Linked DNA regions of Homo sapiens. The protein of the gene in region 2 interacts with the protein of the main gene of each other region in a pairwise test. Each region holds a gene or a part of one and is shown on either strand. Other genes may lie near its edges.

Evidence for each region.
Region 1: the proteins of DAB1 (region 2) and NAF1 interact in binary tests that used the Homo sapiens proteins (3 or more experiments, as listed by UniProt).
Region 3: the proteins of DAB1 (region 2) and LGALS9B interact in binary tests that used the Homo sapiens proteins (3 or more experiments, as listed by UniProt).
Region 4: the proteins of DAB1 (region 2) and HMBOX1 interact in binary tests that used the Homo sapiens proteins (3 or more experiments, as listed by UniProt).
Region 5: the proteins of DAB1 (region 2) and LGALS9C interact in binary tests that used the Homo sapiens proteins (3 or more experiments, as listed by UniProt).
Region 6: the proteins of DAB1 (region 2) and ZCCHC10 interact in binary tests that used the Homo sapiens proteins (3 or more experiments, as listed by UniProt).
Region 7: the proteins of DAB1 (region 2) and TMTC3 interact in binary tests that used the Homo sapiens proteins (3 or more experiments, as listed by UniProt).

What each region holds. Positions count from the first base shown.
Region 1 is NC_000004.12:163,146,391-163,149,890, forward strand, and holds part of NAF1 (H/ACA ribonucleoprotein complex non-core subunit NAF1), read right to left. Parts: intron 2,045-3,500; coding exon 1,951-2,044; intron 1-1,950. UniProt on the Homo sapiens protein: RNA-binding protein required for the maturation of box H/ACA snoRNPs complex and ribosome biogenesis.
Region 2 is NC_000001.11:57,008,061-57,011,560, forward strand, and holds part of DAB1 (disabled homolog 1), read right to left. Parts: exon of another isoform or gene 3,213-3,500; coding exon 3,085-3,212; exon of another isoform or gene 2,731-3,084; coding exon 2,635-2,730; 3' UTR 2,620-2,634; exon of another isoform or gene 1-2,619. UniProt on the Homo sapiens protein: Signaling adapter of the reelin-mediated signaling pathway, which regulates the migration and differentiation of postmitotic neurons during brain development.
Region 3 is NC_000017.11:20,464,740-20,468,711, forward strand, and holds the start of LGALS9B (galectin-9B), read right to left. Parts: upstream 2,801-3,972; 5' UTR 2,732-2,800; coding exon 2,693-2,731; intron 1-2,692.
Region 4 is NC_000008.11:28,963,395-28,966,894, reverse strand, and holds part of HMBOX1 (homeobox-containing protein 1), read right to left. Parts: intron 3,085-3,500; 5' UTR 3,028-3,084; coding exon 3,005-3,027; intron 1-3,004. UniProt on the Homo sapiens protein: Binds directly to 5'-TTAGGG-3' repeats in telomeric DNA. Associates with the telomerase complex at sites of active telomere processing and positively regulates telomere elongation.
Region 5 is NC_000017.11:18,490,289-18,493,788, reverse strand, and holds part of LGALS9C (galectin-9C), read right to left. Parts: intron 3,057-3,500; coding exon 3,021-3,056; intron 2,517-3,020; coding exon 2,466-2,516; intron 1,845-2,465; coding exon 1,800-1,844; intron 1,333-1,799; coding exon 1,244-1,332; intron 1,093-1,243; coding exon 930-1,092; intron 1-929. UniProt on the Homo sapiens protein: Binds galactosides.
Region 6 is NC_000005.10:133,002,550-133,006,049, forward strand, and holds part of ZCCHC10 (zinc finger CCHC domain-containing protein 10), read right to left. Parts: intron 817-3,500; exon of another isoform or gene 548-816; intron 1-547.
Region 7 is NC_000012.12:88,194,307-88,197,346, forward strand, and holds part of TMTC3 (protein O-mannosyl-transferase TMTC3), read left to right. Parts: intron 1-531; coding exon 532-1,343; 3' UTR 1,344-3,040. UniProt on the Homo sapiens protein: Transfers mannosyl residues to the hydroxyl group of serine or threonine residues.

The DNA.
Region 1 (3,500 bases), on a different chromosome or scaffold from region 2:
TCCCTCCTCAAAAAGCAAAAACATAATCTCCAAATCTCCAGTTCTTTTAAATGACACAAATATTAAAGAACTGATCTACCATAACAAAGAGAAAACACACGCACACACAAACACACTCTCAATAAGTTTTTAGAACATCAGAGCCACAAGTAAGAACACTGTTACATTACATAGATAATACCATGTCAACTAAGGGAATAAAATATATTACCTCAGATTATCAAAATTAATTCAAACAATTTCTTTTGTATCTCAATTAATTTTAACAGTGGATACTTCAGGCTGGGCACGGTGGCTCACGCCTGCAGCACTCTGGGAGGCTGGCGAGGAAGGACGGCTTGAGCCCAGGAGTTTGAGACCAGCCTGGGCAACGTAGCAAGACCTTGTCTCTATTAAAAATCTCTATTAAAAATCTGCAACAGTAGCATGTGCTGATTTTGACCCATTTACTCTTTATTCCCATTAGGTTGAGAATTTTTTCAGTCTATGTTAGTCAAAATAGTATTGTTAAAAATGCAAAAATGACATGCATTATTCCATGTACGTCAGAGTTTACATTTATTTTTTTGAGGATCAACATTATGACCTAAAATTTTTCTGTATACATCAAGTCTAATAAATGTTTAAATCATACCACATAATCAAGAAATTAGTTGCCTGTTTGATTTATCTATATATATTATTAAATACCATAACTCTAAAACTAGTAAATGTAATGATTCCAGAATCACGGAAAGAATTTTAATTATTATTTTTGAAAAGAAGGTTCATTTTAATCTACATTTTTATTAATAAACTGAAAAAGTACAAAATTATGTAAGTGTTAATTTTTAAAAATATCAATATAGACACTGTTAGAAAAAAGTCAAAAGAAAAAGGTCCTATTTCTACCACTGACTCACTATACAACTGGTCCTAAGAGCAACTGACTTGAATTTTTCTGTTTCCTCAGGTCCTGTGGAGGCTGGTGGGCAATCTAGGTCCTCTTCACAGTTCCAAAATCCTATTACTTTGTCAGTGCTGAGTTCTATTCTCCAGCATATCCTACTACGAGTTAATAGTACCTATATTAACAAGAATCTCACAGAACAAACTCACATGTTGGGGCTAAAGAAGTCTAAAATATTAAGTTCTCTTATAACTCAGCAACTTCATATTTCATGCCATTAATAACAGTATTAAATTACAAAACTTTCTCACATGTTTTTAAGACAAAATCAAAGGTGGTGAGCAGAATGGCTCCCCAAGAGATATCCACACTCTAAATACCTGAATCTGTAAATACATTACATTTTTAAGAGCCTTTGCAGATGTGATTAAAGTTAAGGACCACGAGATAGGGGAGATTATCCTGGATTATGCAGGTAAACTCAATCTAAAAAGTCTTTAAAAGCAGAGAACCTTTCCACATGTGGTTAGAGTGAGGTGAGATAATGGAAGAAGGCTCAGAGACAGACGTTACATTACTGGCCTTCAGGATGAAGAAAGAGAGCCAAAAGTCAAGGAATGTGGGCAGGCTCTAGAACCCAAAAAGAGCAAGGAAGTAAGATTCTCCCCTAGTACCTACAGAAAATAACTCAGCCCTGTTAACACCTTTGATTTTAAGCCCACTGAGACCCACATGAGAACTGTATGATAAAATTGTGCTGCTGTAAGTCACTAAGTTTGCAGTAATTTGGTATAGCAACATTAGAAAACTAATAAACCAAATCAAAGGAAATTCCGGAGGAAGTATGTCAGTAAAAGCAGACATTTAAATTTCTATAAATAAACTGTATTTATATATAATTTTAGTATATGAAAACTGAATTTTATCCCTTCAAACTTAATGACTATAAAATAAAGTGTTAATTACGTATGTCAAAGAAAATTTACTAGTCATAAAAGTCATTGATTCAATTATTAGTGTGTGTTTGGAAACAATTTTTATTAATAGAATTCTTAACATACCTAGTTGTTCAATAATACTTGAAACCATCCCAAGAGGCTTTAACTCAATATCTTCAGGCAGAATAATAGTGAGTTCTTCAACAGAAGGCAGTTCCTATAATTTAAAACAAAACAAAACATTAAACTTCCTCCAGCTTCAACAACTTAAAAAAAATAAATTTTCCATTTTAAGTGCTACACATCTCTGAAAATGCTTTAAGTGCTTAGAGCATCTCTTTAATGTTATCATTTTAGTGGTTGCAGACTTGTGATAGCACTTCTCTCCCTCCAACATTTCTCCACCTAAGTGACTCAACAGGTCTCAAGTATACACCCCAAATTCAGTTAGACTAAGAACACAGACATAAGTACTATTCTACATTCTTTCAGTCACACTTGAACAAGAGACTACCTACTTCCTGTAAAAAAGGCTATTATCAGGCAGAGACATTCCATTTGAAAAGAAATAATTCTACTAGTAACTATAATTTCTCCACATAAGTTCTTTTAGCTGTCTTGTTAAATTGGTTAGTTAATTAGTTTGACTGTGATTAAACAGAACACAGAAGCAGCAATCTTTTCTGCGACTGTGTCAAGAAGAGTTGAATGGCCTCTTCAGGAAAAAGGAAATGACACCTATCAGTGAAACATTGAAGTCCTGAAAAAAGAATATAGGCTTTAGCCTATAAAAACTATGAAGGTGTTGCCTGATACCTTCTCTCTCTAGGTTAAAAAATAAGTTTCTTTACACCTAAAGATTTCTCTTTTCTTACCCACCTGCAAACTGCATCTCAGTTGCTATGGAAACTAGATATTGAAGTACAGATGAATCTGAAGAGAAATCTAAGAATAAATCTGACCTTAGCCTTTAGATTAAAAACACAGCTTTCTGTTCTTGACCCTTGCCAAATGATCTAACTCTCAGAAGGAAGCTTTTCCTCAAGATGGCTTGAAGTGCAAAGACCCTACCAATGGCATTTTAGCAGTTAAACTGGGAGAAGGATAACTTTTGGAGAAATGTTGGAAAAGGTGGGAAAACCTACATAACATGAAGTATACTGCAGACGAATGCATCCTGAGTAATCATATTACCCCTACGGAAACTTAAACTAGGTTCTTAAAATCATTCAACCAGAGTTGATAAGCAGACATCTAAAATACACTTTGTTTCTGGGATATGCTATTTTCTGATACAGGATTACTTATGGAGAGCAACACTACGGGTCTCAACCAACTGATGCAGAAGGAAGTCAGCAACATGCCTTTGTATGGTTAGTCTGCCTGGTGTTAGAGGAAATTATTTTGTTTTATCCATCAGAATTCTTATGAGTACTTTCAAAGAGAGAATAACCACTTGCCCTTTCATCATATTAAACGTGGAAAGCCTTATCTTGGGAAGACCATGGTTTGAAAATGGTTCATGTGTGTATCAGAATGCAGAAGGGAGTTTAGTTGTTAGAACAAACTGTGACATTAAATAGCCTTTTTACAGAAGTTCTTAGCTAAAGCAATCTCAAACCTTGTTAAATACAAGACTGGATAACTATAATTTTGGGGGACTGCAGAGAAGA
Region 2 (3,500 bases):
AAGCTTTCAAAGGGAGAAAATTACTTCACCGAAGATTACAGTCCAGCCCTCCTCTGGAGCTGGGAGGTACTTATTTTGACTTGCATGTGATTCTAAGACAGCCCATTTTTTGGCAGTGAGCTGTGTGAGGCCCAAACCAGGGCCATTCTGATTATGGGGTGGGGCAAGCCAGAGAGCTAAGCAGCAGGCTTTTTTCTTTTTTTCCCTTCCAAAGCTGTTGTGACACATATTGAAAATTAATTATCTGAAGACAAAGTACAAAGCAAAACCTCCCAACCAATGGTCTTATACATGAAAGCTAAATGTATAAAATCCAAGAGAGTGGGGAGCGTGCATTAATTGGATATATGTGATGATGATAATGATGATGATAATGATGATGGTGATGGTGATGATGAGGGTAGCTAGCATCTATTAGGTGCTTTCTATGTGCTATACACAGTGCTAAGAGCTTCACATATATCACTTTATTTAGTTCACATAATAACCCTATGAGGTGGACACTATTTTTATCCTTATTTTTCAAATGAAGAAAATAAGATAGAGAATAATTATAAAATCACAGCAGTGTCACATAGCCAGGAAGTGGTGGAGCCAGATGCTGAACTCAAACAATGTTGTTCCAGAACCTAGATATTTTTTTTAAGCTGAATTTTAAGCTGATTACTCAGTGTCTGTCTCTGCGCTAGATACTCAACATAAACTATCTCAGTTACCATTATGGAGAATATAAGCCCCTTCTAGCAGATGAAGAAACCAAGACTCAAATTTTGGTTCTTGCCCAAGATTTCCCACTATTAAGTAGCTGAGTTAGGATTTAAACTCAAGTCCAAATCCTGAGTTCTTCCCACACTACTATGCTATGTCCATTTACAGCTCAGCTGTGGCTTGGGGTACTGGACAGAGCATTAAATGTGGAACAGACCAAAGCCCCATGAAACAGTTTGGCTTGTAGGATTGTCTCAAGCTGAACAGGTTCATAAAGATGAGGGTTTAATACATTGATCTGCAAATGGTGTAAGTCATCTTTGTTTTCTAGAAGAACTTCAATTTTAGGATGATGTTTGCTGTTATCCTGATGAATGGCTCTTGTCACCTCTAGTTTATTCACCAAATTTTTCAAGGCAAGGTTGAGCACGTGAAATACAACTTAGGCGGGGGGTAAAATACCTCGTGGGGAATCATCCCAAGGAGTCTGCCTATAGTCCCCAACTTTTCTTTTTCCTGAAACATTGACTTTGCTTTCAATATATCAACTCCCGAAGTAGCTTTGCAAGAGTGAACTTCTAAGTGAATCGTAGGTGGTTTTGCATGGCATGACATATTATTATGTGCTATTGCACTGATACAAAATGTGGCAACCTACACAGTGTGTTAGGTTCTTTAATAAAAATACCTGTTAACAAAATACACTTTCAAAATACCATATTAGCTTTCAGTAACTGTCTAACTTACGTGTGGGCTAAGACTAATTCTGAGGTAGCCTCAGAATCCATTTATGAGGTAGCCTCCGAATCCATTTATGAGTGGAGAAAACTGTTTACCATTTTAATGGTTTTGACCATGCTGTTCAGAACTTAAAAAAGGAGCCTTTTGGGAATGGCCTTGCAGTCCTGTGTGTTTATAGAAAACTAAGAAGGTATCTGAAAATTGAACACGTTTGTCAAGAAGTGACCTTAGAAATCATGTCTGGGTAACAAGGTGTACTTCTGTCTCCTAAGAAGGTTTGCTTCATCAGCTCCTCTTTCTTTCGATCAAATCAGATGTATTGAAATTCAAGTGCCAAAAGCCACTTCTAGTAAATGTAAGTACATCTCTCTCAAAGTAGCTGCTGATGGAATCTGAAGTGATTTGGTGGCAATCCACATGCTGCAGCACAGGTGCAAACAGCACAGCCTCAGAAGTGAGTGCTACACATCTCTGGGCTTTGAATTTCACATCAGAAAGGATGCAGGGTGCAGGGTCCTTTCTGGCTAGACGAAAAGGGCTTCCTCTGATCTTACATCTCGATCAATCTTATTTCAAGCACTGCTTGTTTTTGCTTCTTAGTCTGGCTTCTCTGTGTGTTTGATTGGTGACCTCTTTAGATCTGCAGACTGTAGGCAAATGCAGTGACATTTTGCTTAAAAGATTAAAGCATCTGGACCATGGCTCACTGAGAAATTATCAGGGTGGGCAGAATGTGTCCATCTCAAAATGTTGATGCTTCCAGAAACTAAATGCATGCTAAGTAGCATGGACCATGCCTCATTCTATCACCACCAACCACGCAGAACATATTATTAATAAAATAATATGATCAGTTCCCACTTCTCACCCCTACCCCTACCTCCCAGGATATGTCAAAGGTCATGCATCCATGAGAAAAGGCAAAGTAGAACGTAGACACCAGGCAAAGGGACATGGTGCAGACACTGGTGATATAGCTCAGGCAAGAAGAAATAGTGCAAACATCAGGAATACAGTTCAGGGAAGGAGCGATGGTGCAAACATCAGCAATACAGCTCAGGCAAGGAGACATGGTGCAAACATTGAGGATGTGGCTTCAGAAGTGAAGAACAACCAAAAGGGAAAGCAGATAGCTTAAGGGTAAAGGAGATAAAAAGGACAGATACCTACCCAGACCTGCGCTATCTAGCTACCGGCCTGTGGACTTATATTATCACCACTGGGCTCCCCACTGGGCTCACCAAATGGATCACTGTTGGATGAGGCCTGTGATCCATCAGGCTAGAACACAAGAAGATAATACTTTTTTTTTTCTCTCTTTTCAAGCATTGAAAATATAAGACACCTGGATATACTTTCATGCAGCACAATCAGTTATTGTAAAGGAGGGTGCAACGGCATTTAGAGGATGCTACACCACAAATGTGGACTTGTAGTAACAATTTAATAAAAAGGCAGTCCTTTTCAGCTGACTCATTTGAACACAAAAGAAAGCCCCTTTAGCAACCCCTTGAGAACTTATGAGATTGAGCCAGCATTCTTTTCTATGTAGGCTTCCTCATGCATTATCCATTTCAGTTACAGAGGTCTTAATTTTAAGGAAAAACACAAACAAATAACAAACTGGTCACTTACAGCTTCTTGCTCTTCGCTTTTGCTGGGACTTTCAAAGCCCTCTTCAAAGATGTCATCTGTGGTAGGATCACTGGCATGGGATGCAGATGATTTGGATGGAGAGCTCTGTCTAGGGGCTGGGGTTGGAGCTACACAGAGACCACAGAAAAAGAGACATCTTAAGTGCCTGGCTGCCATGAATGTATCCCAAAGAAACCTCAGGAATCTGCTTATATTGAAGTCAAATCTTAGGATTCCTCTTCCTATTTCCAGTGGAATCAGTTGAATATTTGAATTCTCTCTCTGTACGTATTGATCTTTCCTCTCACACATCTGACTTCAGGAAGGAGCTCGTCCACACTGATAGGTAAGGCAGTGGTTCTCAAAGGATGGTCCTTGGACAAGCAGCAGCAGTAGCATCTGGGAATTTGTTAGAA
Region 3 (3,972 bases), on a different chromosome or scaffold from region 2:
GTACACTAGCAATTCTGACACTGGCCAAGTCACTTGACCTGCCTGTGCCCCACTTCCCTCCTCTGAATGGCAGGGCAGTAACACCACCCGACAGTGTTCTGGAGAGGACTGGGTGCAATGCTGTGTGCTGAGTCCCTGGCTGGCAGCATTCTGGAGAGGACTGGGTGGAATGCCATGTGCTGAGTCCCTGGCTGGCAGCGTTCTGAGAGGACGGGGTGCGATGCCATGTGCTGAGCCTCTGGCCCATGTCGGCCTTGACAGTGCAGCTCTTTGCATGGAACAAATCAATCCCTCTGCTGAGTCAGAACTTGCTCTCTGTTCCTGGTTGTGCCCAGAGACCGGGGACTTTCCCTCTTCTTCCTACCTGGAAGTCAAAGCAGAGCTGAGCCCTGCGGACCAGAATGTGGGCAGCCTCATTCTGGACTCAGCATCACCAGAGGACACCAAGGCCTGGCCCCAGGAGTAGGGAGCTCAGCCTGGCTGGCCGAGACTGCCTGCCAGCTGGAGCCAGTACGTGGCCCTTAGCCAAAGTGCCCTGTTGCCTCAGAGGCTCCACGGTCCTGCTGGCCACCTTTCATGACACTTTGATTTTAGCCTTCTGACCTCCAACACTGTAAGCACAAATGTGTTGTTTTAAGTTGGCCAGCTAAGGCTGCTGTGGCATTTGGATCCATGTGTGTCCATGAGGGCTCTGGGGGTGACCGGGAACATTTATCCTCACAGCAACCCCGGCCACTTTTACAGATGAGGAAACTGAGGCACAGAAAAGTTCAGTCACTTGCCCAAAGCTACACAGCTGGTCGGCAACAGAGCTGGGATTTGAACCCCAGCACCCACGCTTCTAACCACCACACAGGCTTCCTCTCATGAGGAAGCTCGGAACGTCCTTATTCCTGGCTCTCGCAGTGCTTCCTGGGCCACACAGCAGGTGGTTCCAGCTTCCCCCCAGCCCTCCAAAGAGGCTGGGCTAGATGAGGCCAGACAAGAAGTGGGAGTGAGGTTTCCAAGCCAGGCCCTCATGGCACTCAGCCCTCCTCAGCAGGACAGTGAACCGCGTGACCTTCCCCCACTGTCGGCATGTGGAGAAAGCGTGGCTCCGACTGCCAGATGGGTCACCGAGTGAGGCTCAAGTGTCCCAACCCAGGGGAGCCCCCGTAGGGTAGAGGGGAGCTCTGGACACCTGTGGGGGCTGCACTGATCGTCTTTCTTGTCTGAGCTCCAAGGCCCCGCTTTAACTCTCTCAAACTCTCTGATGTGCATAGGAGGATTTTCCTTCTGAATCCAAAGATTAGAAAGTAAAAACCAGTTACCAGAATAATAATATGTCAGAACCTGGAAGAAGCTCTGGGATCCCCTCTCTGGCAGAAAACCAGAAACGGGGTGACATGCTCAAGGTGGCATACGCTGACTCTAAGGCTCGCCCAACACCGGCAGCCCGTTCCAGCTTCCCCCACTCCCTCTATGCAGGTTCTACCTTGGGGGCTTCCATAGGGTGGCTGAGGGGTCATTGGTGACAGCCAGGAGGAAACAGGCCTCCTTTCTCCATTCTTCCTCTCTGGAGTCTAGAAAGCAGAGCTGAGCTCTGCAGACCAGAACATAGGCAGCCTCATTCTGGACTCAGTATCACCAGAGGGCACCCAAGCCCGACCCTGGCCTCTGCTGAGGTGGCCCCTGGCAGCTTCCCTGCCCTCAGCACCCTGCCTCTGCCCACCCTCCCCATTCTGTCTCCCCACTCAGGAAGGGCCCATCAGCCCACCCACTCCAGCCCCTCGGGAAGCTCTTTGCCAAGGCAGGGTGAGATCCTGTGACAGGACCCAGCCCAGGACACAGTCACCCCTGAAGGCTCCTGGGCTCCTGGGGCTGCCACTCCCATCTGGGGGCATTTGGCAACTGGCCTTTGCCTCCCTGAACCTTGGATTTTCCGTGAATGAAGGGGACTCATAAACCTCACAGAGTTTCAGCAAGGCACCTGCAGCCCTCTGACCCCACACTGCAGGGACAGTCCCTGCCTCCGTCACCTCTGAGACTGTCCGTCTACAGATGCCCTGACATGCCTATGCCTGGTTAACTCCGCCTCACCCTTCAGAGCACAGACACCTCCTCGGGAGGCCTTCCCTGCTGCCCCCAGACTCCCAATAACATGAAACACTCCCAAAGCACCTACAGTGTGTCAGGCACTGTTCAAACACTCTAGATACACTACTTCCTTAATCCATATCCCAACCCTGGGAGTGGGGGGCTCAAGTATTATTCCCACTTCACAGATATGGAAACTGAGGCCCAGAGACCACCAGCCAGTAAATAGCTGGACCCAGGGAGGCCAACTCCACAGTACGCACCCTTAACTACCATGCCGGGTAGCATCCTTACTGTCCCAGAAGCATGCTTGCTTCCTCTTTACACAAACCATCCCACTCTACACCTCTTCCCCTGAGCGCACAGGACAGGACACGACAGCTCAGCCAACACTGTCAAACCCATGATTCATGGGAGGAGCATCCCTCCAGGCATGAGTGAGCTCAGCATGGCACAGCTGTGCCAGGACGACCCCCACTGACATTTCTGCCCTGCTTGTGTTCTCTTTGGGATGCCCCCACCCCTGTCTCCTGCCACCCAGGAGTTGCTTCCTCAGAGCCCCATAACTGTGTCCCCCTGGCTGAGGCAGCCCTGTGCCCACGGCCCTGGAACTCACTGGGCTCAGATAGGGAGCCTGGGAACCGCTGAAGGCCATCTCCACCGCCTCTGTGGCCACCGCTGCCTTTCACACCTGCCAGGCAGTCCTTTGCAGAAGGAATGACTTAACAAAGTAATAGAAACCAAAGCAACTTGGCTGTTATTCAATGGGGAGGAGCCGGCAGCAAGAGGAAGTGGGTCCAGAGAGAGAAAGGTAGGGTGTTGGGTGAACTGGGGTGACACTCATAGAGGGAAGTAGGCACTCCCAGCCCCAGTGACCTTTCCCTCCTCCCTCTCCTGTGCTCAACCCCAGCCTGAAGCATATTTGGTTCATAGAGGTCTACAATGCTTGACCACACTGACATGACAGTGAGTTGCCAGATGACACTGCCCAGAAGTATGTGGCTGGGTGTCCTAAGCATGCTTGGCCACTGGTTCCAGAAAATAATGGGGCTGGGCATTGCCTGTGCACAGGGTGCTTGTGGGGAAGGGCGGCTTCAACCCATTTTACATATAGAGAAGCTGAGGCTCAGAGTCTGAGGGACATGCCCCAGGTCACACAGCTAATTCGTGGCAGCCTGAGCTATATGAAGATTCTCAGAATCTTCAAGAAGTATTTCTCCTCTTTAAATTTCTATTCTTCATGTTAAAACATAATTATGTAGAAGGGAATATTTTGCATGAAAAACACTATAATGAAGATTTTTATTCTAGAGTATGGGGTGCCCAGGAGCTTCTGATCCTCCCCCTCAGTGAATCTCTCTTTCTTCTCTTCTCCATCCTTATTTTGTGAGCTTTAGGATGGGGAGAGAAGTCTTGGACATAATAGAACATTTCAAGTGACATGGGAGTGGGAAGGAACATATGGCATGAACTGCCTTTAATTGGCTTCAGCACCTAGTTAGGGGAAATAATTGGCTGAAACAGAGAATAACAGGATAGGCTGCAGAGGGGAGAGGGAGCCATGAAATAAACTTACCTGAAGTTGACCAGGTCCCAACGATGTGCTGGCGAGAAGGCCCAGAACTCAAGCTGGGGATGGGCGGGTAAGGACCATACAGGCTCGAGGGGATGGCAGGTGCCCCAGGCCATACGTGAGTCTGCACCTCTCTTCCTTCCTGTGTTCTGCCTAGATGCACTAGAATTTGCAGACGAACTCCTTTGAGATGTTCCCATAGACTGAGGCCGTGTGTGTCGTCTGCACTCACCATCCCATTATGTTCTGGATCAAGTAGAATTTGACCAAGTTAAGGAGTAGACAGTACAAGGGGAGCAGAAAGGAGAGAAAAGAAGGGAAAT
Region 4 (3,500 bases), on a different chromosome or scaffold from region 2:
CCTTGTTCAAATTAGATGTCTGTGCCCTGCACTGAGAGTTTCCTAATGCAAATATAACCTAAAGCAAAATGATCCACAATTGCTAGAATGATCATTCATATGATCACTACAAAGCAAAGTGATTAAGAGCATAACAAACAGGATCAAAGCATGCATGTGACACTGAAGATACAATATTTTACTGAGAAAACGCTGAGTCTAGAAGCTCTCCTGGATATTGAGAATAATGTTCCAATGTGTATTAATATAAACAAAGGCATATACTCCGGCATTTCACAATTTTATTTCTCATAATTTACCTAGTTTAAGCATATAATCACGAATTTATGGCAGTAAATGACCTACAAAGGTCATCTAAGTCCATGATACCAGCAATTCTTTTATAACAGAAAAAGATAACATGTAAGAATTGAATTAATTTTCTTATGCACAAGGATTGTTCAGAGGATAAGGAACATCTTTCACTTTAAATTACTAATCTGAATGCAGACTCAGGCCAACAATAATTGAAAATGATGTGAGAAGAATTTCACCACTGTAATAACAGACAGTGTTTAAGGCATAAAAGAACAATTAAATTCAGGAATTATGGCTCAGTTCATAAACTGATATTCTAAGAAAATATCATACCATAAGACCATAATAATAACTTTTCACAATACATTTTATCCTGACTTGAATATGTACCTAAACCCTTCTTGGATAAGGCATGAGGTCTAGAATATACTTTCATAAGCTAAATTCTACAAACATGTAGAGCAAAGAAGATTAAAGCATTCACAAATAATTAATCTTGAAATCACAGAGGTAAAAAGGACATTACTATCTTACTTGTAAAGCACCAACAGTAAAATTTTATTGGATAACAGCTTTTTCTTCAGCTCAATTCTGCTGTCTTTATTTTTATTATCTAGAATGACTAGGCAAAATAGGTTAGTTTTGTTTTGCATACATGATATTTACTGCATGCTAATTTAACACACTCTAGGGTCAATCACAATATTTTTATCAGAGAGAGAACTCTCCATCCTCTCAGGAATGTCACCTCATGTCAAACTGCATATGTGAGTTACTGTCACAACTACTGGACTTCAAAATACATATACACTCAAGAGCTTAACAGACACTTTGGGAGCTTAGGCTGTGGCAGGGCTACTCTCTGTCAGCAGCTTCTCCAAAACCAGAGAGCTCAGGCTGCAACAGGCCTCAAAGCTTTTATACCTTGCAGGCCAGCATTTTCTAGCACTGAGGGGCCTTCCTTGTGGTCTCAGATCTCAGCTATGGTGGTCAAGCCAGCCTCTCCCAAGAACTGCTCATGTAAAGGTACACCTCCACCTTTAGCCTTCACTTGAACACAGAGGCCTCCTTTCATCATAATTGAGCAAAGACACTTTAATAGCTTTGGAACACATTCATAATGTGGTTAATGTACCTCATCTATTGAGTGTATTCCCTGTGAAGTCTGTCTATGTTACTCTCCCCATCTTTAAGTACTGTGAACCCAAGAAAAAATTCTCTTTGTATGGCAATAAACACTGTGATTCATGAAATCATACTTTGATCATCTTATTTCTACCATATGTGACAAAAATCCAAGTACAAACATGCACATTTATAAAGGGAGATATAAGTTAGGTGTGGAATGAGAAAACTGGAGATCACTTAGACAAAAATCATTCATTTAAGTAACATTTATTGAATGCCTACTATGTAACAGATCCTGTGCAAGGCACAGAGGACACAACAAGGAACAAATCAGGCAAAAATTCATGGCTTCATGATGCTTACATTCATTTCAGTAACTATTAGACATCTTACTATTTTCAATAGCCATTAGACGTCTTAACTCTCCTGAATGCTTAGCCATCTATCTCAGAAACTTCTAGGCTTTGAGCAGTTAAAAATAATAAGTAATTTTATATTCAATTTAAAATTAATGTCAAAATTCAAAGTTGAAAATAGAAATGGTAACAGAGAAGGCTGATAGATTGAAAATAGCCATTAGCAAATAAATTTTTTTAAAAAGTGGGGAGGGAAACTAAGGCCCAAAGAGGTGAAGTGCCTTCCCAAGGATATAGCTACTTAGCAGAAAGTCGGGCTACAGTTCACATCTTCTAGGTCTGTTCCAGAAACTTTTCACTATATCATAGAATCTACTGGGGTGGGGGTGGGGGAACTATAATGAAAAGCCTAAATAATAAGGAAAATCTCTCTTAATGTTTACTTACTGTATTATAGAACTGTCAACCAAAACGGAAGGAATTTAAGCAAAGTGGAGACTCCATCAAATTTTAGAAAATACTTATGCTAAAGGCACTCTGCATTCGACTCTAAAGATGCACTTAATGAGCTAATAGATACTCTGTCTTCTCTAATATCTGAAATTCCCGGAATACTTTTATTCAAAGGCCTATTTAATATGAACTGGTGGTTATAGTTCATATCCTAGCACAAAAACACTCTCAACACAATACCACTATCTCAATTTGTATTTTCTGCCTGACTCCAAAGAAAGGCTAGCACATCAGCTAATAGGCTTAACTACATCATCATGCCCCCAGCAGGTAAAGGAAAATGGTTAAGGTGCTAGGAGTTTTTACACAAAAGGCAACATGAAGATGTATGCTTCCAGTAGTCTGCTTGTCACAAGGAATCTAATATTAGCTCTCTTGAACTGTTAGTCATCTATCTTGGATGCTTCTAAGCTTTAAGCAGTTAAAAATAATAATTAATTTTATATTCAATTTAAAATTAATGTTAAAATTCAAAGTTGAAAACAGAAATGGTAAGAGAAGGCTGATAGATTTAAAAATTCATTTCTCACCACATGATCATGACACTTATTCACCTTAATGTCAAATAGGTATAACATTTGATTCATTTTCTAAAAAAGCTTTTCAACTCTACAAACGTCTGTTGTCAAATCTGGATCATAATCATAGTGACATCTTAACTTTACTAAAATGATTGTGAAGATAAAAATCAAAAAGGACTTGATACTTACACCACTGGAAAGGAACTAAGCATACTTTACATGAGGCGGATCAATATCCTTTCCAGAGATGATCTGCGTTATCTACCATTCTGTAGAACAAAGATAGAAAATTGAGAAACATTTATGTTAATCAAGTGCTGAATAAAAATTTTAATTATGTAACTGATGGACAGCAAGAGTTAACACTAGCTAATCATGTTAAATATTATATCTTCTGATTTGCATTCTACTGCTTTATTCACCATACACTTTGATCCCTTTCAATTCAGACACAGATCTTAACAAAAAATGGTATCTACTATTCATTGTTTAGAAGCTAAAGATCATGAAGACAACTTATTAGCTGGTTAAAACCATAGTTATAGAGGCACTGATTTCCATTAACTCTAAGATTATAAATTAGACAAAAGTTAAAAATGTTGATGTCAAAAACTCTCACATTGAAATACATATTCAGTACTGAATTATATTAAGCATGGCCAAAGTGTCCAACAATGACTAATGA
Region 5 (3,500 bases), on a different chromosome or scaffold from region 2:
GCTACAGATACTGCCTCATTCCATTCTTACAGCTCTAGGAGATTCATATGATTATTAGCTCCATTTTGTAGATGAGGAAACTGAAGCACAGAGTAGCTAAGTCACTTGCCCGAGGTCACACAGCTGTCCACAAATCAAAGAATGTTGCTCCCTGGCTCCATGGCTGCAAAGCCCTACATCAGTCATTTTCAACTCTGATTGCAGAGTGTAATCACTTCAGGCATATTTTAAAAATACAAATGCCCAGGCTGACCGCCTCATTGGCCTGGGCTGGGGTCCCAGCACCTATATGTTCTTTGTAAGCTCTCTGGGTGATTTGAATGTGTAGTCAGGGCGGAGCACGCCTGCTGCTGTTCCTGGAGAGGCCACACCCACACCTCTGCATGTTGGCCCTAGCTGCCCCTCCCAGGCTCGCTCTATCTCATCGCTCTGTTTTGCTTTCTGCGTGGCACTGTTGTTATCTGCAACAATCTGTTCATGCTTTAGTTTCCTTGTTCCTTCCCCCAGCTAAATTGTAAACTCTCTGGAGGAAGGACCCTACGTGTCTGCTTCATGACTGCGCTCCCAGCATGTGGAGTGCTTCCTGCACAAAGCGGGCGACAGTGAAATCGTTGAATGAGTCAGTGAAGAAATGAATAACACCTCCTTCTTGGGTCTGATTTGACACTTACTGACTGTGTGACCGCAAGCAAGTAACCTGCACTTGTGAGTTTCTTTCCTCATCTAAAAAAGCAGATCCCAACGCTTCCTTCATGCAGGACAGTAATAATTATTAATAATAATGACAATAATTTTTTGGCCACCTTTTCTTCTGGGCCCTCATCCCAGAGGCATCAGCTCCCATCCTGTTCAAGGTACCCCAGACCTCCTTTACCCCCTCCCCGTGTACCCATAGGAGCCTCCTCAAGCTCCAGGCTGCGGCGCCTTACCGAGAAGCTCTGGCCTCGGACGAAGGGCATTTTTCGGGGCAGACTTCGCTCCTCAGACCCCCAAGAGTTGTTGATCTGGGTGTTACGGACCACAGCATTCTCATCAAAACGGGGGTTCATGTGGAAGGCGATGTGGCTCCCAGAGCACAGGTTGATGTGGAACCTGGGGTGGGCAGCCTACCTGGACCTTTGTCCACTGAGTTCTGAGCCCCATTTCCTCCCCATCATCCCCAGCCTGCCAAAAGCCAGGGGAATGGCTGGAATGACCTTGAAGGGCTCTCTCTTCCCAGAGGTCACTGGAGCCTTTGGCTTACCTCTGAGCACTGGGCAGGACAGTGCCTGACAGGATGATGGACTTGGATGGGTACAGCCCTCCCGGAATGGTGGTGATGAAAGGCATCGGCTGTCAGAAGGACGGGGACAGGTCAGCCAGTGGCAGTCAGGGCAGCCGCCACATGGAAGGGGAAGATTGTACCAGTTCCCATGAATTTAGGCTGTCAGCTGAGAAGAAGCCCACGATATCTTTCCTTGGTTCCATAAAAGCCAAAGGAAAACTTTCCGGTGCTCCTCAAATTAATGGGCTTAGATTAGTGTCATGAAAGGAAATTTGGCCAAACACAGAAAGAAAGACTCGTGGGGTGAAAAGGGAGGGCCATGCAATGTGCTCACGTTGACACGACAGTTTTAAGGTTGAAAGCTCCTCTCCACAGTCTTCTAATTCACTGGGACGCTTTGAAGCCCTTCAGCTTACCATTTTGAAAGCCCTTCGCTTTTCATTTTTCAAGGCCAGCGGATCCCCCCGTAGCGGCCCTTCATCCCTAGCCTGCCCACCACAAACAGAACCTCTGCCCTCCCTGAGAAACCACTTACATAGGCAGGGTGGGGGTACATCATAGGTGGGATGGCGGGAGTCTGCTGAAAAGAAACCAGGAAATTCAATGGGAGAGCGCATGTGTGCGCGAGCACTCACCCACGCGCACCCACGCATTCTAGAGGGGGCTCCACTGTGAGGCTGACCTCATGAGCCTTTGGCCCTTGGACTCTCCCGTAAACCTCCGTTTTCATGTTAGCCTTCCTGGAACTTCCTGCCGTGTTCCCAGACCCCACCATGGTCACCTGCCCCTCAGCCCCTCCGCAGGCAGCCCCACTAATGCTAAGTTCCCGGCCTGATTTGCACCAGCAGGAGAAGAGCTTAAGCCTGTGATCTGTAGTGACATCCCGGGGACCCAGGAGGCAGGGCCAGGAACCTCACATCCGGGTGCTGGGGCCACTGCACTCCCCACTTGGTGACAGAAGGACCAGTTTCCCTCCCAGTCTCTAGGGAACCTGCCTCTTCCACCACTGGATAAATCCAGAATCTCTGCTGTCCCAAGGATAGTTTTAACCACATGTCACCTGAGCCAAGGACTCAGCCCCAGATGTCCCCACCCTCCTTGCTAAACCGCTTTCTTCCCAACTCTAGGGCTCTAGGGAGTTTAGTTCTTGGGGAAGGAGGGCACTGTGCAGCTGTGAACTGATCAGAACTTGAAGACTTACAGAGAACATCTGTCCAGAGGCACTCTGCACCGTGTGGATGACTGTCTGGGTCTGGAAGAAAGAAACCAGGTCTCACCCAGGCTCTCCTGAGTAAAGACCACCCCAGCTCCCACCAGAGGGTGCCACACGGCAGGCACCCTCCAGGGGCATAACCAGCCCAGTGGCCCCACAGACCCCACGGAGGGTGGGTCCAGGGGACGAGGGAGAGGCAAAGGTTAGGACCCTGGAGAAGACAGATGGGGACGCTGGTGGCTCTGGCCCATCTTTCCTCTCGGGGAAACGTCTCTCAGCCTAGCCTCCCTTTGCAGGTGAGAGAAGTGAACGTGGGGCATGGTCTTCCGTGGCTGCCCATGGAGTGGCAACTCAGGTTGTTCCATCACGGCCAGCCAACCACATTCACCCACCAACCTCGCCAGGCCGGGTAGATGGTCAAGGGCCTGGCCTCTGCCCTCCCCACTCCCGATGGGAGAGGCCCAATGCCTGGCCCTGCATCCTCCATTAGCCCAGAAGAAGAGCCAAAATCAAGAGGATCCAAAAAGAAAGCAAGAGACTTACAATGGGAGCTGGGTTGGCAGGCCGCACGCTGGGAGGCTGGAGGGGTGAGGAGAGTCAGAACGGTGGTTATTGCGGGCACCACAGAACGGGGAGAGACGATGGCAGAACTCCAGGGAGGCTCTTGTGCTCAGAAATGCCTCCCCAGACACACCCACCTCCCTCTTGCTCCCAAGCAAGCCTTCCTGAGCCCGTGGCACCCAGATTTTTACCCTCAGGTGCACAAGGCTTTGGGGTTGAGGGGTAGGGTATCCCCACTGGTTCCTCTCGAGAGAGAGGAGGCTGGGTTTGATAGAGACCTCATTGCTGTCTGTAGCTCCCACAGCCAAGAGCATTACTTCCGGTGCCATATTTCACCCGTAAGCTGAGAAGTGGTATTTGTTGAAGGCCTATTGTGGGCCGAGTCCTGGGCTTCAGTGCTTTCCAAAGAGGGAAGCAGCCTCAGCTCCTGTGTCCCTGGTGAGGCAATGAGGCTCAGAAAGA
Region 6 (3,500 bases), on a different chromosome or scaffold from region 2:
CAAACATTTTTTTGCTTACATTCCTAATAAAATAATTTCTGGAAAACTCATACTTGCAATTCTAAGTTTTAATATTTGCAAAGGGCATATTATATACATATTATAAAAAGTTCTACAATAATTTAATACCTATTATTCACATAAGAACATATGAACATTTTTAACAGCTGATACTTTTTCTTTTTTTTGAGGTGGAGGCTCGTTCTGTCGCCCAGGTGGGAGTGCTGTTGCATGATCTTGGCTTACTTCAACCTCTGCCTCCTGGGTTCAAGCAATTTTCCTGTCTCAGCCTCCTGAGTAGCTGGGATTACAGGTGCCCGCCACCATGCCTGGCTAATTTTTGTACTTTTAGTAGAGATGGCGTTTCACCATGTTGGTCAGGCTGGTCTCGAACTCTTGACCTCAGGCGATCCACCCACTTCGGCCTCCCAAAGTGTTGGGATTACAGGTGTGAGCCACCACGCCCGGCCTTTTTTTAAGAAACAGGGTCTTGGCAGATACTACTTAGCCCAGGGCCTGGTGGCTAGGCTGGTTGTCTCCTTTCCAGTTGGAGGCTTCTGCTGCAAACATTCTCCGCCAGATCATGGGTCAGGCCAAGAAGCATGCGAAGTTGATCCCCCTTTTTGTATTTATTGGAACTGGAGGTATTGGAGCAGCACTGTTTCTCTCGCCTCTGACATTGTTCAATCCAGATGTTTGTTGGGACAGAAAGACTAACCCAGAGCCCTGAACAAACTGGGTCCCAATGATCAATACAAGTTCTACTCAGTGAATGTGGATTACAGCAAATTGAAGAAAGAAGGTTCAGATTTCTAAATGAAATGTTTTACTATAAAGCTCCTTTAGAATGAAGGTCTTCCAGAAGCCATCCGCACAATTTTCCACTTAACAGGAAATATTTCTCCTCTAAATGCATGAAATCATGTTGAGGTAATCTACTGGAGATTACACTGATTAATAAATAACTGAAAGTTGAAAAAAAACCCAAAAAACCCAGCATCTTGCTATGTTGCCTAGGCTGTTCTTAGACTTCTGGCCCCAAGTGATCCTCTTGTCTTGGCCTCCCAAAGTGCTGGGATTACAGGCATGAGCCACAGCATTTGGCTGATAGTATAAATTTTAATAACTATTACATTAAAACAAACTTATTGGTAATGTGTATATATATATATTTTTGGCGAGATACAGTCTCACTGTATCACCCAGGCTGGAGTGCAGTGGTGTGATTTCAGCTCCCTGCAACTTCTGCCTCCTGGGTTCAAGTGATCCTCCTGCCTCAGCTTCCCAAGTAGCTGCGATTACAGGGTGCACCACCGCACCTAGCTAATTTTTGTATTTTTAGTAGAGACAGGGTTTTGCCATGTTGGCCAGGATGGTCTCGAACTCCTGACCTCGAGTGATCCACCCACCTCGGCCTCCCATAGTGCTGGAATTACAGGCATGAACCACTGTGCCCAGTCCGGAAATGCATTTCTTAATGACAGATTTTTTTCTAGTTTATGTATCTATAAATAAATATTTCTTCATGGTAGAATGTGACCAGGTTTGGCATCAATTAAATTCCTATTTTTAAATTTTATTTTTTCAATAGAGATGGCTCCTTGGGAATTATTTCTTATTTTTAATTTCTTTTTTTTTTTTTGAGATGGAGTTTCGCTCTCGTTGCCTAGGCTGAAGTGCAATGGTGCAGTCTCGGCTCACCACAACCTCCGCCTCCCGGGTTCAAGTGATTCTCCTGCCTCAGCCTCCCAAGCAGCTGGGATTATGGGCATGCGCCACCACGTCTGGATAATTTTGTATTTTTAGTAGAGACGGGGTTTCTCCATGTTGGTCATGTTAGTCTCAAACTCCCAACCTCAGGTGATCCACCCGCCTTGGCCTCCCAAAGTGCTGGGATTACAGGCATGAGCCACCGCGCCCGGCTTAGTTCTTATTTTATTTTTATTTTTATTTTCTGAGACGGAGTCTCGCTCTGTCACCCGGGCTAGAGTGCAGTGGCGCGATCTCGGCTCCCTTGCAAGCTCCGCCTTCCGGGTTCACGCCATTCTCCTGGCTCAGCCTCCCGAATAGCTGGGACTACAGGTGCCCACCACCACGCCCGGCTGATTTTTTGTATCTTTTTAGTAGAGACAGGGTTTCACTGTGTTAGCCAGGAAGATCTCCATCTCCTGACCTCGTGATCTGCCTGCCTCGGCCTCCCAAAGTGCTGGGATTACAGGTGTAAGCCACCGTGCCCGGCTTAATTCTTAAGTGTTACATATTTAACCTAGAGAAACCCTAACCTAAATAGATTGATTGGAATGGAAAGACTTTTGTTATTTCCATGTCACTCGATTCTCTGCATTCCATCTGTTATATGCCACAAGTCACATAATAATATTCCATTAAAATATGCTTTTTAATTGACAATTCAATTAGGTCATCTTCAATTTTGTTGAGGGAAAAACCTTAAAAAAGAATTTACTCTCAGCTGGGTGCGGTGGCTCACGCCTGTAATCCCAGCACTTTGGGAGGCCGAGGCGGGCAGATCATGAGGTCAGGAGATCGAGACCATCCTGGCTAACATGGTGAAACCCAGTCTCTACTAAAAATACAAAAAATTAGCCAGGTGTTGTTGCACGCACCTATACTCCCAGCTACTCCGGAGGCTGAGGCACAATCACATGAACCTGGGAAGCAGAGGTCGAAGTGAGCTGAGATCGCACCACTGCACTCCAGCCTGGGTGACAGAGCAAGACTCTGTCTCAAAAAAAAAATTTTTTACTCTAAAAAATTATGGCCAGCTGGGCATGGTGGCTCATGCCTATAATCCCAGCACTTTGGGAGGCTGAGGTGGGTGGATTGCTAGAGCTCAGGAGTTTGAGACCACCCTGGGCAACATGGCAAAATCCCATCTCTACCAAAAATACAAAAAATTAGCCAGGCGTGGTGGTGTGCATCTGAAGTCTCAGCTACTGGGGAGGCTGAGGTGGGAGAATTACTTGAACCCAGGAGGTGGAGGTTGCAGTGAGCTGAGACTGCACTCCAGATTGGATGACACAGTGAGACTCTGTCTCAAAACAAACAAACAAAACTATTATGACCATTCACTTTCTCAGCACAAACACCACTATTCTGCCATCTAGGTTTTTATACGTGAGGACAATACACTAAGGTATGTTAGAGATGGGTGAGAGGTATACCTTTCTTTTGTGAGATTAGAGAAGCGTTGTTAGAAAAGGGGAAGTAGAAAAGGAGACCAGTAGGCAAGTTCTCATCAGATTTGTTTTAGGAAGAATTGTATATGAATGTTGATAATCTAGAAATTGGTTATCTATTCCTGCATAACGCTTGAAGAACTTTCACGTCACAAATTGGAAGACTGTTGCCTTGAAAGTCTAAATATTTAAGACACTATTATACAGCTAACAGCCCTTAGGAAGATGCTGCTTTTTTTTTTTTTTTTTTTTTTTTGAGACAGAGTCTCCCTCTGTTGCCCAGTCGGGAATGCAGTGGCACAA
Region 7 (3,040 bases), on a different chromosome or scaffold from region 2:
AACTTTGAAGTAACATTTTTTAAAATGTGATACAGTCATTCTGAAGCTTTTTTCTACCCAGTAATAGTTACTATTTGCTGAACATTTTTTCGATATACAACATACAATTATTAGAAAACTCAGTTAACCCAGAGAAGTTAAGTAACATGTTCAGTGTATAAAGTCATAATGTTATCAGAATCAAGATTGAATACATGTCTTTGTTGGCAAATCCCATGCTTCTTTTTCTGAATTCTCTATTTTCCTTCTATTTCCAATTGAATTCTAAATTATAAGAGACATTTCTCTCCTTTTGGTTTCTGAAGCACTGTTACTGCTTTAAAGGAAAAGAAATAAGCTATCTTTTTACTGTTTCAAATATTTTGCTTTTCCTATGAAGACTTCGAGATTTTTGCTTTCTACTTTTTTTAACTATGGAAATTAGTTGTTTTGAAGCTGTCTTTTTGTAATCTAAGTATTTGAAAATGGCTTTGTTCCTCACATTTAATTATTTTATTAACAATATATTTTTTCTTTAAAAAAACTTTCTAGGTGAGGTTAAACTCAGACCTGAAGCTAGAAAACGACTTCTAAGTTATATAAATGAAGAGCCACTAGATGCTAATGGGTATTTCAATTTGGGAATGCTTGCCATGGATGACAAAAAGGACAATGAAGCAGAGATTTGGATGAAGAAAGCCATAAAGTTACAAGCCGACTTCCGAAGTGCTTTGTTTAATCTGGCTCTCCTGTATTCCCAGACTGCAAAGGAATTAAAGGCTTTGCCAATTTTGGAGGAGTTACTCAGATACTACCCTGATCATATCAAGGGCCTCATTTTAAAAGGAGACATTCTGATGAATCAAAAGAAAGATATACTAGGAGCAAAAAAATGTTTTGAAAGGATTTTGGAGATGGATCCAAGCAATGTGCAAGGAAAACACAATCTTTGTGTTGTTTATTTTGAAGAAAAAGACTTATTAAAAGCTGAAAGATGCCTTCTTGAAACACTGGCATTAGCACCACATGAAGAATATATTCAGCGCCATTTGAATATAGTCAGGGATAAGATTTCCTCATCTAGTTTTATAGAGCCAATATTCCCAACCAGTAAGATTTCAAGTGTGGAAGGAAAGAAAATTCCAACTGAAAGTGTAAAAGAAATTAGAGGTGAATCCAGACAAACACAAATAGTAAAAACAAGTGATAATAAAAGTCAGTCTAAATCCAACAAACAATTAGGAAAAAATGGAGACGAAGAGACACCCCACAAAACAACAAAAGACATCAAAGAAATTGAGAAGAAAAGAGTTGCTGCTTTAAAAAGACTAGAAGAGATTGAACGTATTTTAAATGGTGAATAACATTAATATTTATCGTGACAATGGTATCAAAGAACATCAATCCGTATCATGTGATTGCTTTTACTGGGAGCTTTGAAAAAAAGTTCAAGGGTTCCTAATGGTCAATCATGAGCTGCCTTGAAGTAGGATCAAAATAAGATTTTCATTAAAGACCTGTATTATCCCAGGATGTATATTATGTATCGCTGTTTTCAGAGTGTGGGTGAATATAGCAGAAATATTACAGCGGAAGTGACAAATTTACAACTTTTATTATAGAAAGAAGGTGTTTCTGGCAATGTAATCTTTACTGCTCTCAATTAAAAATAATTTTGAGGCCTGAATGATAATCCCTTGAGGACAAATCCAACATGTGCTGGTTTATTCTGTTAATTCCCATTTATTTGCCTACTTCATTTTTCTTGCACCTCTTAGAATCTAACTATGAATTGAAAACACTTAAGTAATTCTGTTTAATCAAGGGATTTACACTACAAAAGAATGCTGGCTTTTTTTATGTTGTATTCCTTAGTTGAGTTTTAGAAGGAATGCTTGATGAAACATTTTAAAATAAGTCATGACATGTTAGCTTGAGAATGTATTTTCATAATTGTATACTTGTTTTTAACTTTAAATGTAATTTTTAATCAGGTAAAGTTTGACACATGTATAGCTACATACACACATTTTTAATGGTGCTCATATATACTGTATTTTTTGTTGTTTAGTTTTACTTATTGAGAGTGTCACAACATGAATCACATAATCATGATTTTTTTTTTTTACTTTTACTCCCCAAATTATTCATGTTTCTTAGATCGTAGTCATTGAGAAGTCCCAATAACTCTAAACTTTTGAGTTATAACGTAGTAAACTTCTCTTTCATCTTTGTGTTAGCTCTGTAGTCTTAACCTGGATTTTAATTTTTTTGTTTCCAAAGTCACAATTGAATTATTCTTAGATACCTTAAGCCACTGAATTCAGTTCTGTTTGACTGAAAGCAAAACAACGTGACAGTTTATTTTCAAACACTAACTTCTTGATATTTTGTTATGGTATATCTTTTTATTAAATATTTATTTTGACTAAGCTTTCATAAAATATTTGAAGCTATTTTAATCATCAAGTATGGAAAACAAATTACTATTGCATTTTCCTATATATGCATATATTATGGATTAACCAGAATTGTATCATTTTTGGCCTAATGTCTGGATATAAAAGATAATTAGCCTACTATAGTATTAATAAATTTTTCAGTTGGTTTGGGCAAATTTAAACCTGAAAAATAGGTTAAAAAGTAGTTACAAATTAAACTTACTAATTTATACCTGATTTTTTTTCTTGAATTAAAGTACATTTTAAATGAGCTTTATAATACCTTAAAAAGTTGGTTCTAATTTAAAATATGAAAGCTCTGGCTATCATCCTGGGATAGTAATTTCTAATTATATAGTATTTCAAAACTATATATTTTTTAGTTCCTTTGAGATAACTAATTTCTAATTATATATGTTTCAAAAACCATATCCTGTATTTTTTTTAAGAATTGTTTTATAAATAGGTCATAAGATACAAGGTCTGCATTAGAAGACCCACTCTTACTAGGTTCCCTAAGGATCTGCCATAGATTTTTTTTTTTTTTTTTTTTTTTTTAGGTAGTTTAAAGCAAGCACTGATACCAGTGGGAGTTGGTCTTGATCTAGGAGATTCTGTTA